2 separate regions of the Homo sapiens genome follow, and region 2 is linked to region 1. Evidence: fine-mapped expression QTL. A gene starts in region 1. The other region holds a variant in brackets. All regions are shown on one strand. Distances are between the middles of the regions. Region 1 holds the start of GALNT2 (polypeptide N-acetylgalactosaminyltransferase 2). Region 2 overlaps GALNT2 (polypeptide N-acetylgalactosaminyltransferase 2).

Region 1 (8,337 bases):
GTGGTATCTCACTGTGGGTTTTTGTTGTGTTTTGTTTTTTATTTCCATAATCAACACTGGAGGTACATTACAGTTTGTCCTCATGAATTCTAGTTGTTCTCATGAGGTACATTTTGTCCTTGCAGTTTTGACTTTGTCTTTGAAATGCCCCATGTCACATCTAGCTATTCTTCTGATTCCCAGGTCTAGAAACTACAGTGACTTCAGACCTGCCCCATGTACAATGGAAAGACTTCCATAACCTTTTTTCTTCTACCTCTAACATTGTCTAAAGTTTAATCTCTATCATACATCGCTTATTCCATCAAACTAATAATGATTTTACTTTGCAGATCAAATCCTAATGATATACAATTGATAAGTGTTTAGGAAGGGAAGTTTTGGGCTATAAATTGTCCCTCTTCATCTCATTTAATGCTTTTTGGCCTACTCTGTTTTGTTTGATATCAGAATCACAGCACCTGCTTTTTCAGAGTTGGGGTTTCCGTTATGCCTACATTTGAAAATCTTTTATTTTAAAGGGTGAACTGAGCCCACTTATAAATTGTTATATCTGATGTGGGTTGGTCTCAGCTGTGTCATATTGTTTCCTATTATAACTACTGCATCACTGTGCCACACTTACTGTGTTTCTTTCATTATTTGGTATGTATTCTTTGCTATTTTTAGAACTTTTGGGGTTTTGGAATAGGGTTTCCAATATTTGGGAATACATATATTTTGTTGTAGTGATTTTTATTTATATTTTTAATATATTACCCTTAATTCCTATATTTTGTTTCTAACCTTTTAACATCTGGTCTGTCTGTTTTATATGGTATCCTTTCACTACTACCTGCTACTGATATTGCAGACAATGATATTATTCTATTTTCCCTTCGCTCTTCCCCTTCTCCTCCAGTTGTCTTTAGTTGCACCTGTTCTAAGTTTATCAGAAAGTATAATGTATATACACTAGTCTTTCACCTTCTGAATATACAAAATGCTCTCCATTAGTCACTCTGCTGGCTTCCTCAGCTGTCTCTTGGTTGGAGGAAGCTCATTCTCTAAGATTCCTCATGAAAGGCCCATGTGAGTCACGTTCTCTGAATTTTTGCATTCAGGTCATATCTGTTTGCCTACAACCTTGACACTTGAGGGCTGGGTATAAAAATCACTGCCTGGTACTTTTTTGTGTGTGTGTCATGGAGTCTCGCTCTGTCACCCAGGCTGGAGTGCAATGGCATGATCTCAGCTCACTGCAACCTCTGCCTCCCGGGTTCAAATGATTCTTCCACCTCAGCCTCTCGAGTAGCTGCGATTACAGGCACCTGCCGGCTAAGTTTCATATTTTTTTTAGTGATGGGGTTTCACCACTTTGGCCAGGCTGGTCTTGAACTCCTGACCTCAGGTGATCCACCCACTCTGGCCTCCCAAAGTGCTGGGATTACAGGCATGAGCCACTATGCCCAGCCTGCCTGGCACTTTTGTTCCTTGTTAATGCTGCTCCACTGTTGCCTGGCTTTGCATGTTGCTGTTCAGAAGTCTGATGCCAGCATAAATTTTTATCTCTATAAGCAATTTGATCTTTTTTGCCTTTAAAATCTAATCGTTTTACTAAAATATATTTAGGAGTTGATAATTCCAGATCATTTCCCAAGGTACATGGAAGTCACTTTTGACATGTACATTTAAATTTTCCCTTATTCCTGGATTATTTTCTGGGGTTATAGTTTTAATATTAATTAGGTTTTATTGTTTAATGTTTGTACTTTAGGGACTCCACTTAACATGTATTTTGGTCTTCCTTTCCTGGCTTTTATTTTAACCTCTTCTCTCTGAACCTTTTTACTTCTATCTTTATATTATTTTCAATTTCTTGATTGTTTTCTTGCCATTCTTCAGTGTCCTTTTACATATTTTCATTTGAATATATTTTCCCTTGGACACCTTGTAATTATTCTTTGTTTCTGGGATAGTTTTTGTCATTACTTTCAATTTCCTTCTTGAATTTGCTCAACCCTTGTTGCATTTCTTCCTAATTTTTGTCTAGTCTGTCTTCAGTTCTTGAAATTTCTTATCCTAGATATGTGTGTGTGTGTGTATGTGTATACAAATACGTGACACTTTGTTCAGTTTGACATGTGGTATTACAATTTTCTTATGCTTCATGGTTTTTATTGTGGGGGTTTTCATCAGCGAAAATGTTATGATTTATTTTTTATCATCAGAAATGTGATTTCTGTTTTCTTTTTGCAGAATCTTTAAATGCAGTTGATTTGATGTTTTTCTGTTACTAGGCATTTTGAGGCAGGGTTCCCGGTTCAAGAGTGTTTTCTTTTATCTGTGTACTGAAATGCAGTTTTTAATAGATAATGTTGGTGTTTGGGGAGGGGACTGGCTGTCTTCTCTTTCATTTCTGCAGGATTTGTAATTTTCCCTTCTGACTTCCTTCTTTCCCTTCATTGTCAGGCCTCTGAAGGACATTATCTTCTTTTCGTATTTATCTGACTTTTTCCCAGAAACAAGGCTCCTTCAAGCCTCTCACCTCTTGTCCCATTTTCTTTCAAATCTCTTCCCTTGATCAATAAGGCACCTGACCTCTGTTCAGTTTTTAGTTCTTGGTGTTGGACTTTCTATTTATAAAGAGGTGACAACCCTGTACTTCACTTAAGTCCTTGGCAATAGTGGAGGGAGCTCAGTTGGAATTTGGTATCTTTTCTTTCTTCTACTTAAGTAATTTAATGTTCAGTTCATGGCATTCTCTCTAAGTAATGCTGAAGGCTTGTTTTTGTTTCGTTGAGGATATGGGTACGGACTTATATCAGGCAGCTGCCATTATCCTCTGACCGAGAAGCTCCTGAAAACATTTAATATATCAAGTTCTAAGTAAAATTTCTGTCTTTCTTAGGAACACTGGAAGCTTTGCGTGTTGCAAGGGCATCACCAAGGTTACATAGATTATGTTACAAGACAGATCGTTTTCTTGTATCGTTAAAGATGCTTAATGTGCTTTTTAAAGAACGCAACGAATGAGAAAGAAAAGATTTTAAACAATATATTATTGCTTTCCTTCTTCCTCATTTTGTGTTTATTGAAAAGAACAACTCTACCATTGATAGCTCTGTCACCCACAGAAAAATGTTCTTTTGAAAATTACCTTCTCAGTTCCTACCAACTCAAAACCTCCACATCTGCCTATATAGATAAATAAAATCGATACCAGCGGGTCAGGAATGTTTTGCTGCAAGATTAGTGAGAAAACTGCAGCAAGCAGCAGCAAAGTCGGGTTCAAGCGGGCGGTTTGCACCAAAAACTCAGGTCAGTTGGCCAATAAGAGCAAGCCCGTTAAGGGTCTGAGGTGGCCCCAAAGACCAAGGCTGAAGAGGTGACAGTCTGGGCAGGAAGCACCGAGGCCACTACCGCCCCCGTAATCGAGAGGCCCCGTGTGCGTGAGCAAGGCTCTTTGCCCACGTGTGCGCGCGCTCCAGTCGGGTCCCGGGGCAGCCACCTGTCACTCACGGGGGAGGGGGCGGCCGGCGGGGGGAGCACGCTGAGGGGCGGGCGGCCGGGGGCGGGGCGGCGCCCAGGCCCTCACGGCGGAGCCCGGCGTGCTGCAGCCATGGAGACGCGGCAGTCCCCTCCCGCGGCCCGCGCCCCGGCCCCCGCAGCCGCCGCCGATTGGTCGCCCTTTGCTCCCTGACCCCCCTCGCCGCCTCCGAGGCCGCTGCTTCCTGCTCTGGTGCCGCGCGGCGCCGCCGGCCCGGGGCGGAGCTCGGGCGCCGAGTGCGCGCCGCCGCCGAGCAGTAGCACCGCGCGGGAGGAGGAGCCGCCGCCGCGCCCTTCCCCTTCCTCCGCTCCTCCCCCGGCCCCCACCGCGCCCGCGGCCGGCCCAGGCAGCACTCGCGAGCAGCGGCGGCCCCGCCGGCGGCCGAGTTGGGAGAATGCGGCGGCGCTCGCGGATGCTGCTCTGCTTCGCCTTCCTGTGGGTGCTGGGCATCGCCTACTACATGTACTCGGGGGGCGGCTCTGCGCTGGCCGGGGGCGCGGGCGGCGGCGCCGGCAGGAAGGTGAGTGGAGCGCCCTGCCGCGGCCGGGCCCCTGCGCCCACCCCCCACCCTGCGCCCCTGTCCCCTGCCCTCTCCGCGCCGCCCCTGCGCTCCTCCGCCCGGACCTCCGCTCGCGTCGCCCGCCCTCGTCCCGGGCCTCCGCGCCGAGTGCCCAGGGCAGGGGTGCACCCGGCCCCTCTGCGCACGCCGGGCTCCGAAAGGGCGGCCCCCGCAGCCTTTCTCTGCCCCCTCTCGTGGACGTCGCCCCTCTCTCTGCTCGTCGTAATTCGAGTCTTGTCCGGCCGCCGGGAGCCCCATCCCCTGCGGTTGGAAGTTTAGGGATGGGGGTGTTGGGAAACACAAAGGGGGTGGGGAGGAGAGGAGAGAGAGGCGACCGCTTTTCCAACGCGTCATGTACAGCAGGAGAGAGGAGTCCAAGTTTCTTTTCAGCCCTTTGATACCAGCGGCTGCAAATCCTCGTCCCTTTCCCCCTGTCACTCCGCGGGGCGTGGGTTCCGTGTTTCTGCCACCTTCTTTGCCCTTTACCTTTGGGGGGCAGGGGCGGCCGCTCCCGTGCCAAGTAAAGCCCCAGGGCCCGTGCGAGCCAGGGGCCAGTGCGCCCCTGCGCCCCGAGCGAGGCCAGTCCCGGCCGTTCCCTTGCGGCCCCAGCGTTACCCTCTGCCCAACCCGGCCCCCGGCCCTCCCGCGCGAGCCGGACGTGGCCTCCTGCGCTTGCATTTTCCATCCCCACTCCCCGCTTCAGGGAGAATCCCTCTTCTGTGGCTGTGTTTTTAACATGCTCCAGGGGCCGAGTGATCTGGCTGTGGGGACCGTGTGAGCCGCTCTGCGGTTCCGCGTCCTCGTGCCGCCGCTCCGGACGGCCGGGCCCTGGGCATTCGGGAGGATGGTGAGCGCCGAGAGGAGCCGGGACAGCGCGGTCCTGCGGCCGAGCGCCGGCCGGGAGAGCAGGGCGTCGGGCTGTGTGCTGGAGCATGCCGGCAGGGGACGTTTGTAGTGTTTTACTGGCTCCTCGGCTTTGAAAGCAGCGTTATCTTTTCCGAATTCCTGTAACCCTCGTTACTGTGACATTTAGTGTCACCGCAAACCCAGAAAATTCTGAGTTAATGGAGATGGACTACGGGTGGTTGGGTTGGAACAAGAGAGTGGTATCCTGAAACAAGCCAGAGGGAACTAACTAGATGAACAGACTTCAGTTCTGAAGTCAGACCCCTAAATGTCCACGCCGGGGTTTGGCTGCTTCAGAGGTTTTTTCTTTGCTTCATTCATTCATTCATAGCCGAAGATGTTAGGTGGAATGGGTGCCTTATGTGGTTTCTGGTAAATTACGTGGATTTGTTTTATCTAGAAGGGCAGAAATAAAGCCCTCTTTCCACGTGCTGAATCGGCCTAGCTTCTGAGCTGACATTGTACTCTTAGCGTTGTTTTTGTAAAAAATGGTATAGGTAGTATATGTACGCGAAGACTTGGTTTATTCTTGAACAGCAAAGAGCATGCAGGCAGCAAAAGCCGTGCAGTCCATTCAGAGATATAATCGTGTAAAACTGGAATGATTTTTAAAACTTTGCTTCCCGGTAAACTGTGCCTTGGCCACTCTGCATAGCCTGGTGTGCTGGTGAGACCTGGCAAAGCTTTCTGCCTTTCATGCAAAGAAAACCAAACACATAAGCCACCCTTGGCGTTTCTCTTTCCTTAGTCTGCCACTTTCATTAGTACACGTGATTAGAAAGAGCAAGCGTGCTCGTTCGCCTCCCGGAGGCTGATTCCTCACTCTGGTGGGCTTCAGTTCCTGGATGGTGTGAGGGGTCTTCCATGCAGAAGTCTTCAGACACTCCTGAAGTGTGTGATTCTTAGTTTGTTTTTTTTTGTTTTGTTTTGTTTTGTTTTGTTTTTTTTAAAGAATTCCTGGTGGCAATATAGACAGGTACGGAGACCAGGTAGAAAAAGTGGGGGAAATGAACAATTAATTACACATGGATTGGTGATTTGGGATTCTATTCTTTCTGTCAACGAACCATAAAATTTAATGCTACCCCTTAGGATGCTTTAGTGATTTGTCGGTTGAGGAAGAGGTGTGTAAATGCAATAGCTTTTGAAATTGCAGTGGAAGACTCATTAACTTCGTGTGGTGGACCCAGGGTTAAAGAGAAGCCTTAAGATGGTTTCTGAAGGAGGTAAATAGAGCCCTGCTGTCACGAATGCCTGATGTATAGGAAAATCGTGTAGTCTTCTTTCTTCCCCAATTGTTTCCATGGATTTAGACACTAGAAGTGTCTCTAAATTTATTTCATTCTCATACCAAAAAAAAAATGTGGTTTGTTTGGCTTGTAAAGTATGGACATAAAAAAAGATAGCGGGCCATGCACAGAAAGGCAGAATTTAAAAGCTAGCTATAGTTTTTTTAGAGATAAGTGGACCTATATTTTTTCTCTTGCCTCATACTGTTCAAGTCAGGGCTTTTATTCCATATTTAGCCAGTTTCTGCACATCCTGACGTTTTTCATAGGGTACTAGGCTGCAGTATTGGGCTTTAGGGATCGTCTGAGGGGAGTCCAACTAGGATTTCTGCTGCTTCAGCAGCCCAGCCCAGGCTTGTCATTGTGTGCCCTGCCTGTTAAGTAACTCATCACAGAACTGTTATTCTCCACTTGGCAAAACCCAGAGAGCCAGCTCACCTCAGATTGCAGGTTTAGTAAACTAAGCAGGAGGGAGTGCTGAAGACCAATCTCAGGCACTGCCGCACAACTCGGGACTCAACACCCAGGCTCAGGACATGTATGTTAAAGCAGTTTATTCAAAATATTGTTTAAAATTATGTTTCATTTACATTTGTGTCCATACCCTTTCCCCCCATATTTTGCTCTTTCCCCCTAAATTGATGATTTGCACTTCAAGCGTGCCTTTCCTTTGAGCTTCTTAAATGCTTTAAAATTTTAACCATGTTAAGTCTCCCCTGGGCTTTGGTACGTTGGCAGTGGATGGAGCCGCAGAAGAGAGGAAGGGATTTCTCTGGAAATGAAGCTGCCTGTGGGTGAAGTGTGGCTGTTTAGGGTGGAAAGGGAAGGGTTTTCTCTCTGCTGTAAGAGTGTGTGGAGCCTGAGACCCCTTGCCTGTGTGCCTGCATGCTGGGAGGTAAGGGACGGTGTTAGTTGAGGGACATGATCCGGAGCCCTGGGAGCCTGTCCACTTTGCACAGTAGCATCACCCTTATTCCCTGAGCTGGCACGAGTCCTGTGGCCCTTGCCCGAGAGTCCAAGGGTGGGGGACTTTGGGTGGGATCTTCTAGGAATCATGCGGGGAGGCGGGCAGGTTATTTCTTGGAACAGTGAAGGACCTTGCCGGGCTAGACCATGGTACACATGGAGGGGAACGTTAGGGTGTAAAGTTGGAGAAATTCAGAACTAAATTGTAACGGGCTTCAAATGCCAAGCTGAACCATTTGGGAACTAGTAATGTTTTTGAGCTAGTAGTAGACATTAAAGGGAAATGGCACAAATCCACTTATTGGCATTGAGTGAGACCTAGCTGTTTACCTCTTTGTGCTTAGTGACCTTCACTGATGCATTGAACCTCTCTGACCCTCAGTTTCCTCATCTTTGCAGTGGGAGTAATCATTCTTACCTCATGGCCTTGTTCGGAGAGTTAAATACTGTTAGTGGGTGCTGAATAACTGCTATCTCTAAAAGAGGAAAATGAAAAAATAAAAGCCTAAATATCCCCTTGAAAGTGTAGTGAACCAGGAATCTTAAGTTCACGGTATTCCTGATACAATTCTTGATTTCTGGAAAATAGTCGTCTTTCTTTTTTTTATCCGTTACCCCCACCTCTGAGATTGATCTGACTGGTTCATTTGGGGTTTGGGCTATGAATCTTAAATGCTGTTAGAGACGGACTTTTTGGGAAGTTGTCCAGACACCATGCCAGCTCTCTTGTACCCAATTGTGGTGTCAGAATGGGGATCCCAGTAGTGGGCAGCCATCGGGAATGTGGGTGGAGGGTGCAGCTTGCCTTGGCGGTTAGGCAGTTGTAGTGTCCAACAGTGGACAGACGTGTCCCTGAACGAGGGGTTCCTGTGGTGGGATCCCAGGTTCTGAGCTCCACTGCTCTCCCTCTGTAGCCCTGCCCCTCTTGTTAGAAGGGCAGGTCGCTGTGATCCCTGGAAGCATGCATGACTTGAGGTGGAGCATGGGGCCCTCACGTGGTTTAATGGGTGCCAAAAATCTGTGAGCATCTTGGTGGATGCGGAGGGGAACACCCATACCACTCCTTGCCACCTATCATCAGTTTGGAG
Region 2 (8,337 bases), 87 kb after region 1:
TAGGAAGCCTGAGATGTAACACTCAGAAGAGGCTTGACAGGCTTGGAATCAAAGGCATGACTTCATACATCACCCAAGGTGTCATATTTCTTCTCAGAAACTTATATTTGGATAAAACAAAAATCCTTTTTCAACCTTTGAAACGGTTTCCAACAGCTGCTTTAAAAAGACATAGTACAACAACTCCTTCCACTTCCTCTTTCTGCCCGCTTTGTTTTTGTCCGCAACCTTTGCAGAGAAGTGAATGTCTCTGTTAGAGTTGGAGTTGGAAATTGGGGAGGGATGTGTGACTTGATTCTGAAAGGAAAGTCTCATCTCTTTGGTAGAGCATTTTTGTTTTGTTTGTTTGTTTTTAGACCTTAAGCTCTACTTATAATTCTGTCTAAGACACCTTTGTGGAGCAGTTGGAGTGCCTGGCTCCTCATTAGAGAATGCGCTGCGACATTCAGCCTCTCCTTGGCCTTCTAGGATGGCGGGAGGCACAGACACACACTCCTTTTCCCACCCAGGGATTTGGCGTTCAGAATGGGGGCTTTGACTGCTTGGCCCTGACTGTGCAGTTTTCTGGATGGAAGCCTGCTGTCTTCTGAGCACAAAGGAATCCATCGTTTTCTTTGCTTCCCTAAGGAATCTATTTTCCCAGTGGCAGAGCAACTTAGAGAATTCCCAGCCAGGGCCACCATTCTCAACTCCTCAGGACGAGGCTGGTGCACCCGGCATGCAGGTGTCTGTAACTTTGTGTGACTTGTTGAACTCTTTCCTATTTAAGGTGCACTACCTGGGTTGCCTGGAGCACAATATTCTTCCTCTTGTGGAAATATGTTCAGGATCTTGTGTGGTGTCCTGGGTTTGATTTTATAGCTTTGCCAACATAATGATTACAGTTGACGATCACCGTGGCCACCGTTGTCTTTTCCCTCCATTCCCCTGCAGCTTTCTGGACCTCCGGGATGTCCTCCTGGAGGGAAGGCCCCTGGAGAAGTGTCCCAGTAGAACGCACTGTTGTGTCACTTGCTCTGACCACCGTTGACATCGCAGCACAGCGCTGCACACCCGTGACAGGGTGATGGTAGAAGATGAGGGTCGGATTGTCCACGTAGTGCCTCCAGGAAGCTCAGGATGATGGCCAAGCCAGATATGTAAGGTGGCTTTGGGGCACAGGATGATGCCCTCGAAGTAATGCATGGTCTAGTTGTTTTGTAAACAGTGCTGTTTCCTGAAGAAGCAATGATTTTCTGACTACCCGGCCTCCCCAAGATAGCCCTGGGAGGAGAATTTCTGATTCTCTCTACAGCAGTGCCTTCTTCTGTAGGATCTCCCCACATGTCCCTGTGCCCACCACGTAAGCTAAGGAAGGAAAGCAGAGCTCCTCAGTTCATTGATGGCTTCAACTACAGATGAACCAGTGTTACAGGAAAGGGGTCCCGATCCAGACCCCAAGAGAGGGTTCTTGGATCTCGCTCAAGAAAGAATTCAGAGCAAGTCCGTAGTGCAAAGTGAAAAGTTTATTACAAAAGTAAAGGAATAAAAGAATGGCTGTTCCATAGACAGAGCAGCCTCGAGAGCTGCTGGTCGCCCATTTCTATGGCTATTTCTTGATGATATGCTAAACAAGGGGTGGATTATTCATGCCTCTCCTTTTTAGACCATATAGGGTAACTTCCTGACATTGCCATGGCATTTGTGAATTATCATGGTGCTGGTGGAAGTGTAGCAGTGAGGACGACCAGAGGTCATTCCTGTGGCCATCTTGGTTTTGGTGGGTTTTGGCCGGCTCCTTTACTGTAGCCTGTCTTATCAGCAAGGTCTTTATGACCTTATTTTGTGCCGATCTCCTATCTCATCCTGTGACTTAGAATGCCTTAACTGTCTGGGAATGCAGCCCAGTAGGTTTTAGCCTCATTTTACCCAACTCCTATTCAAGATGGAGTTGCTTTGGCTCACATGCCTCTGACAAAAGTAAAGCTCTCAGGGGGCTCAGGCTGATGGGTTCCCTTTTACTTCTTTGAATCCCCAGTCGGGCTTGGAACCATGGCCTGTAAGCGCATCCGACACTTGGCTAGAATCTCGAACCTGACTCTTTCAAAGATGAGGGCAAGGTTTTTCAAATTGTAAGTTGTGACTCAGTAGATCATGAAACTAATAGAGGAGAATAACATCAGTATTCATGATGAATAATTAAATAGAAAATACTGGAGCACATCATACATGTAAGAGTAGGTACCCTTTTATGACACCGTATGTGGATGGATGGGCGTGCATGTATTTATATAACGTATATATTTAAATACATGGTTTGGGGGATGGATGTCTACATCAAATTTATTTGTTACTATGGGTTTTGGCAAAAAAGTTTGAAAGCTGCTAGGATAGTGCATAGCCAGGAGGGAAATAAGAAGAAGCTATGAGAGAACTAGATAATCCTTCTCCTACACAGACTCGTGTTTTGTGTGAGTGGGACACTCCTCAGCCTGCGTCCACTCTCAGGTAGCTTCCTCTTTGAACCGCTTGTCATTGTGAGGCAGTGACCATCTGCGCCAGCCCTGTCCTTGGCTCTAACGTGATGTTCATTTGCTCACCTTTCTTGGACTTCCTTTGCTTCCTCAGGCTTTAGCTTCTTGCCCTGCTGCCTGTATCTATGGCCTTCTCTCTGGCTGTGGTTTAGGGAAAATCACTCCATCTTTCTGTGCCTTCAGTGTGTTTGTCCACTGTGAGTGAAGCATAATCAATACTTGGTGACTTGGCTAAACTGCGTTCAGTCCTTCTGAATACTTATTTACATTTTATTTATTATTTTTATTTTTAGAGATGAGGTCTTACCGTGTTGTCCAGGCTGGAGTGCAGTGGCGTGATCATGGCTCACTGTAATCTCAAACTCTTGTGCTCAAGCGATCTTCTTATCTCAGTCTGTGGAGTAGCTGAGACTATAGGCCTGAGCCACTGCCCCTGGCCTGAATACATTTAAATGAGATAAAATTAAATGAGAGAATGAAAATGAATAGGCCCATTGCCATGCCTGAGACAAACTCAGATGTCTGCTAATGATCGGTTCTTTTCTCCTTACATGCGGGAGTGTTTCTGTAGTCAGACTGGACACCTACACACTTAAACAGTCATTGATGGGGGGTCAGCCTTCAACATTTTAAGGGTCTCTTTGCGTTTTTAGTTTTATTTTTAATCACAGTAAGCACATTTTCATGTATTAGAGAAAAAGAAAAAACACCCATAATGCTTTCTGTGTAGAAGCAAGCATTACAGTGGCCTTGGTGGTGTTTTTTGAAAGGGCTGGGGAATTAATTCATCGAGAACATCTGAGGACGCCTTCCAGATTCACCAATCATCAGGCCCCTAAGTACCCTTCCAGCCCCACGCCCCTGAGTTCTTTTCATGATTCCAACCCAGAGGTCTCAGTTGTGAAAAGTTTCTTTTGTCAGACACAGTGAGCTCAGTCTGTCTGGCCGAGGCCACTCCGCTCTTGGAGATGGATTACAGCCTTTGTTCCCACTCCTGGGCCTCCTGGCGTGGCCTCGGGGGCCCCTGGTTGGTGGCACTCACCATTCACTCTGTGGAGGGGTCTGGTGGAACTGATATGTTCATAAAAGCTACTGGTAAAAACAAAACAACAACAAAAAAGCTACTGGTGCCCAGTGCCTCTTACAAACTCTCATGCAGATTTATCGTGTGGGTCTGTCTGCGTGGGTGTCTACCTTATAAAGACTCAGAAATGGTTTCTCTTTTCACCCATTGTTTGGAGAATAATAAGTCTCTGTCAGATTAGCTTCTTGGGGCCTCAGTGCTTTTTGAAAAGAGCTTG[C/G]ATAATCAGTGTCTGGTGAGCTGTGAGGCCAAGAGCATATTGCCATTGTGCAACGGGGATGTGGATTTTGTACATTTTCAATATTTCACCATTCAGTCTTGTCAGAAGTCAAGCTGCCGTCCACCCTGCACTTGCAGTGGAGACATAGGCCCTTCGTCCACAGTGGATAAGTTTTTCTCCACGTGGGCCACATTCTTACTAGAAAAGAAACCCCGGCCCTTTAGCTCATCACCCTCTGCTCTGGCTTTCCCCGAGTTGGTACAGAGCTGATGCCGTTGGTATTTTTAAGAAATAATCTTGAGTCAGAAGGAATGTGCCAAACCGGCACAGGTGAGAGATCTCTGGACCCCCTTATATTTGCCTATTCTGCCCCTTCTGAGAAATTTCTGGGAGAGAAGGTAGTATTATGGGACAATGAAGCCCTAACCCCCAGGACCTCAGAATGTCACTTTATTTGGAGATAAGATCTTTATAGATATAATCAAATTAAAATGTGGTCGTCAGCATGGGCTCTAGTATGACTGGTGTCCTTATGAAATGGGGGATTCAGACAGAGCCAGACACACGTGGAGGGAAGACAGTGACAAGAGAATAGACAACAGGCACCACCTCTAAGCCAAGGAGAGAGGCCTGGAACAGCATCTTCCCCCATGGCCCTCGGAAGGAACAAACCCTGTCGCCCCTTGAGCGCAGACTTCCAGAACTGTGAGAAAGTGTGTTTCTGTTCCTGAAGCCTCCCAGTTTGTAGTACTTTATTATGGCAGCCCTGGCATACTTACTCAGGTAGTCTCTGTCAGGTTATTTATAACTCACCTTATCACATTGGTAACTTGTGGTTTTATCATTTGGCATGACATCCAAGGCCCCTTGCAGTTCTAATATTTACGTACTAGCACTTAAAAAGACTTTCTCTGACCACAGGGTCTTTGCTGGATGGGGTCTTGGTCTGGGGCTGGGGCTTTGGTTTCCAAACATCAGGGTCCTCCCAGATGAGGCTGCCCCGCGCCGCATGCACCCCCCACCCCGTTTCCGCGTGCAGTTTTCTGCGGAAGTATTTCCCAGGTCCTCGGTTTCCCTTCTGTGTGAGAGCGTCACTTTCTCTCACATCTGTGGAGCGGAAGTCCTGAGGCAGTCACCGTTTGGGGCCTGCATGGGGTTGTGAGAGCCCTTGTGCTGGCTCCTGCCCGCCCTGTTCTTCGTTGGCTGCCTAGGGCTCCCTGCAGGTTTTCGCTCGGAGGTGGGCCCTGCCTGCAGCCGCTGACCTCCGGGAGAGACCGGCCTCTCCCTAATTATAGCTCATCTCTTAATCCCGGTCATCATTTCAGCTGGCTGTCCTTGAACTGAAAATTGGAATACAATTCAACCTGTAGCTGTTTTAAAAACTGCCTTATTCAGAGAGGGTCAAGATAAAGAAATTTTAGCTTCTTTCAGGATCTTCCAAAACAGATCAGGAATGACTGAATCAGGACAGGGTCTCCTCCTTTGGGGCTGGGAGGGACAGGGCAGGACTCTCCCAGGACAGTCCCATGGGCAGAGCTAGGTTTTGTGAGGACTGGAGCTTTTGTCATTTGAAGACCATTTCTAAGAGAAAGAGTGATTATAACCCCAAAACTGGGCTCCCAAGTGCATAGCACAAAGGACCCCACAGAAGATCACAAATGGCCCATCCTGACTGGAAGAGAGAGATTAGATTGAGGGCCAGGTCGTGAGGGCACTCTGAGGGTCGCTAAGACATTCGGCGTCAACCTCCAGTTCACTCAGGAGTTCTGAGTGGAGGACAAAAGCCTTGCTTTAAAAGGACTAATTCTGTAGTGATTTTGCCACATGGAGAGGGGAGGGAACTATTGTGTCAGATCAGGAAAACCATGGGATCAGTGCTAAGGGCCTGTGTGGTGGGCTCTGTCTGGGTGGGAGAGACTGTGTCCTGGTCATGGGGCTCAGTCTGTGGGTGGGTGATAGAAGAGTAAAGCTTTTGTGTTTTTAGGGTGGGGAAGAGAAGAGAGAGTCATTGATTTTAGATACAAGTGGAATACCACGTAGACCTGGCCTCTGGGTGGTGATGACCTTCTGGGGTTGATGTCTGGAGACGGTGCGGTTTTGGGATGGGGGAGCAGACGAGGGAGAGAGAGAGAGAGAGAGAGAAAGAGAGAGAGAGTGTGTGTGTGTGTGTGTGTGTGTTTTACAGCAAAGACCTGGATCCTGAATCTTGGGGAGAAAACTCCTTGCATTGTACATATTGGGCTGGTTACATGGCTGAAGTTCACCGTGTCATTTTAGGCCTGTTTCTGGCTTCCACACTGGTTTGCAATGTCATCCTAGGGAAGTCAGCTTGTCCTTGGTAGGATATATTCATTGGTGAGTTCACTCAAGAGACTCCTTTTTGCGTTTCTTTACCTTCAACGTTCGTTTCCTAAAATTGATTATTCCTTCATAAAGTTGCCAGCATTTTCAACATGCTTCCTAGATGCTGGATATTTTATTATCGTTTGTCACGGATCAATTTATTTTTTTGGCCCTTAAACTATCACATTTTCTGCAGTTAAATTTGCTTAACTTTCTAATGCAGGGGCAGAATGTAACCTGCAGGTTGTGGCTTTAGAAAGCAATGTGGAACTCGGGGCCATGGTAAGCAAGTTGGTGGTGGTTTTTTTTAATAGCACATCTCATCCTTTGATGTCAGAACACTGTCTACACACTCTGATTCATTTCAGTCAGTCCCTAAAATGTGAAGATGAAATGTTGGGGAGACAGATCCTCTGGCCTGAGGAAGCTAGCCGTCTTGTTTGGGAGATAAGAAACATCAACTGTTTTGAAAATACTTTGGTTCTATCATTAGAGAGCTGATCAAGTGCAGTAAGAGGCAAGGTCAGACTGGGCTGTATTATGTTTTGATTTGGAGAAACTATCACGAAAGAGGTAACATTGAGTCAGAGCCTGAGAGAATTGTGGAGAATCCCTGCAGGAGTAAATAAGACCATCCCAGGAGGGCTCTCATTTAAGGCCTCGTGTACTGTGGTCATTTGACCTTGGTTCAGATGCCACTTCAGTTTAGATGCATTTAAAAGCAGAGAAAACATTGGAACTTACTGTGTAGTATTGAGTGAGCATTAATTGAGATGTGTGTGAACCATTGAGCATGATACCTGGCGTGTCGTAAGCACCATTATAGCAAACTTATAGAAAGCTGCATTATGTCACTATACACCTAGGGGAGTGGCTTTGGGGGGAAAAAAAGCAAAAATGCCACCAAGTACTGGCAAGGACATAGAGCAGCTGGAACTCTTATCCCTTGCCAGTGGGAATGCAAAATGGTACAACCACTTTGGAAAATAGTTGAGCAGTTTCTTATAAAGCTAAACACATGTTCTCATACAACGCAGTAATCCCACCCTTAGATATTATCCAAGGGAAATGGAAATTTATGTGCTCTTGGGATTCATAATGGCATTATTCATATTTGCCAAAACTGGAAACTACGTAACTGTCCCACGACTGGGGAATGGATGAACAAGCTGTGGTTTGCGTACATGGTGGAATGCAGCATGTGGCGGGATACCTCCTGCAGTGGAAAGGAGACAAGCACGGTTCACACAATGTGGATGGATCTCTGTACATTATGTGCATTAAGAAGCCAGGTCCAAAGGCTACATACTGTATACTTCTATTCATATGACATTCTGGAAAAGGCAAAACTACAGAGAAAGCAGATCAAGGATTGCCAGGGGCTGGAGAAGAGAGTTAACTACAAATGTACTCAGGGGAGTTTTGGAGGATGGTGGCACTGTTCTATATCTTGATTGTGGTGGTGGTTGCATGACTATATGCAGATGTCAAAGCTCCCAGATCTGGATACTAAGAAGAGTGAATTTTACTGTATGTAAATTATACTTTTAATTTAAAAGCAGAGAAAAAAAATCATAAGCCAAGTCAGGGAAGTGAGAAGGATCTTGTTGTATGTGGAGAACCGTCATGGAACAGGCCAGAACTGAGCACAGATCAGGTTGAATGGGTAGGATGAACTGTGACTCCAGAGGCATTGAAAGGGAAATGTTTGCATGGGGCGTGGTGGAACACAGAGAGCCCTCGGGAGGCCCGGGTAGCAGGGGGGCAGGATGAAGGGGGCATTTCGTGTTGTGTGAGGGATGAGTAGCGTGGGGAGATGAGGCCAGAGGTTCCAGCCAGGAACTAGTGCAGTTCTCTAGTCTGTAGATAAGGCCTGAACACAGCAGTTGGTTGTAGGATTCTGGAGAGACTGGAGCTTAGACCTGATTACATTATATATGCACTGTCTTTTCTCAGAGATGGGGAAACTAAGGCATGAAAACATTAACTTTTATTTTGGAAAAAAGCTAAACATAGAAGTAAGAGGGAGGCCTCCTGAGGCACTTTGCCAAACTTTATGCACAGCAACTATGACCTGCAAAATCTTTTTAGCCTGGGCTCCCTCTCTTGACCTGAGACTCTTCCAGGGAGCCTGGTATCCACAAGAGTGGAAGCAGCTGGTCAGGGCCACGGAACTGGAG

Evidence for each region.
Region 2: its variant is fine-mapped to the expression of GALNT2 in whole blood (TOPMed, PIP above 0.99).

Annotation. Positions count from the first base shown.
Region 1 is chr1:230,063,358-230,071,694 of GRCh38, forward strand. It overlaps GALNT2 (polypeptide N-acetylgalactosaminyltransferase 2), which reads left to right and starts at 3,881. Exons shown (of 16, transcript NM_004481.5): 1 at 3,881-4,049. The coding sequence starts at 3,924. RefSeq lists enhancers at 3,097-3,256, 5,611-5,690 and silencers at 3,387-4,196, 4,637-4,696, 8,141-8,321.
Region 2 is chr1:230,150,277-230,158,613 of GRCh38, forward strand. All of the region lies in intron 1 of GALNT2 (polypeptide N-acetylgalactosaminyltransferase 2), which reads left to right. Among named protein-coding and RNA genes, the nearest start is that of GALNT2, 87 kb to the left of the region's middle. RefSeq lists an enhancer at 1-175. The variant C/G (reference allele first, on the strand shown) is at 3,815.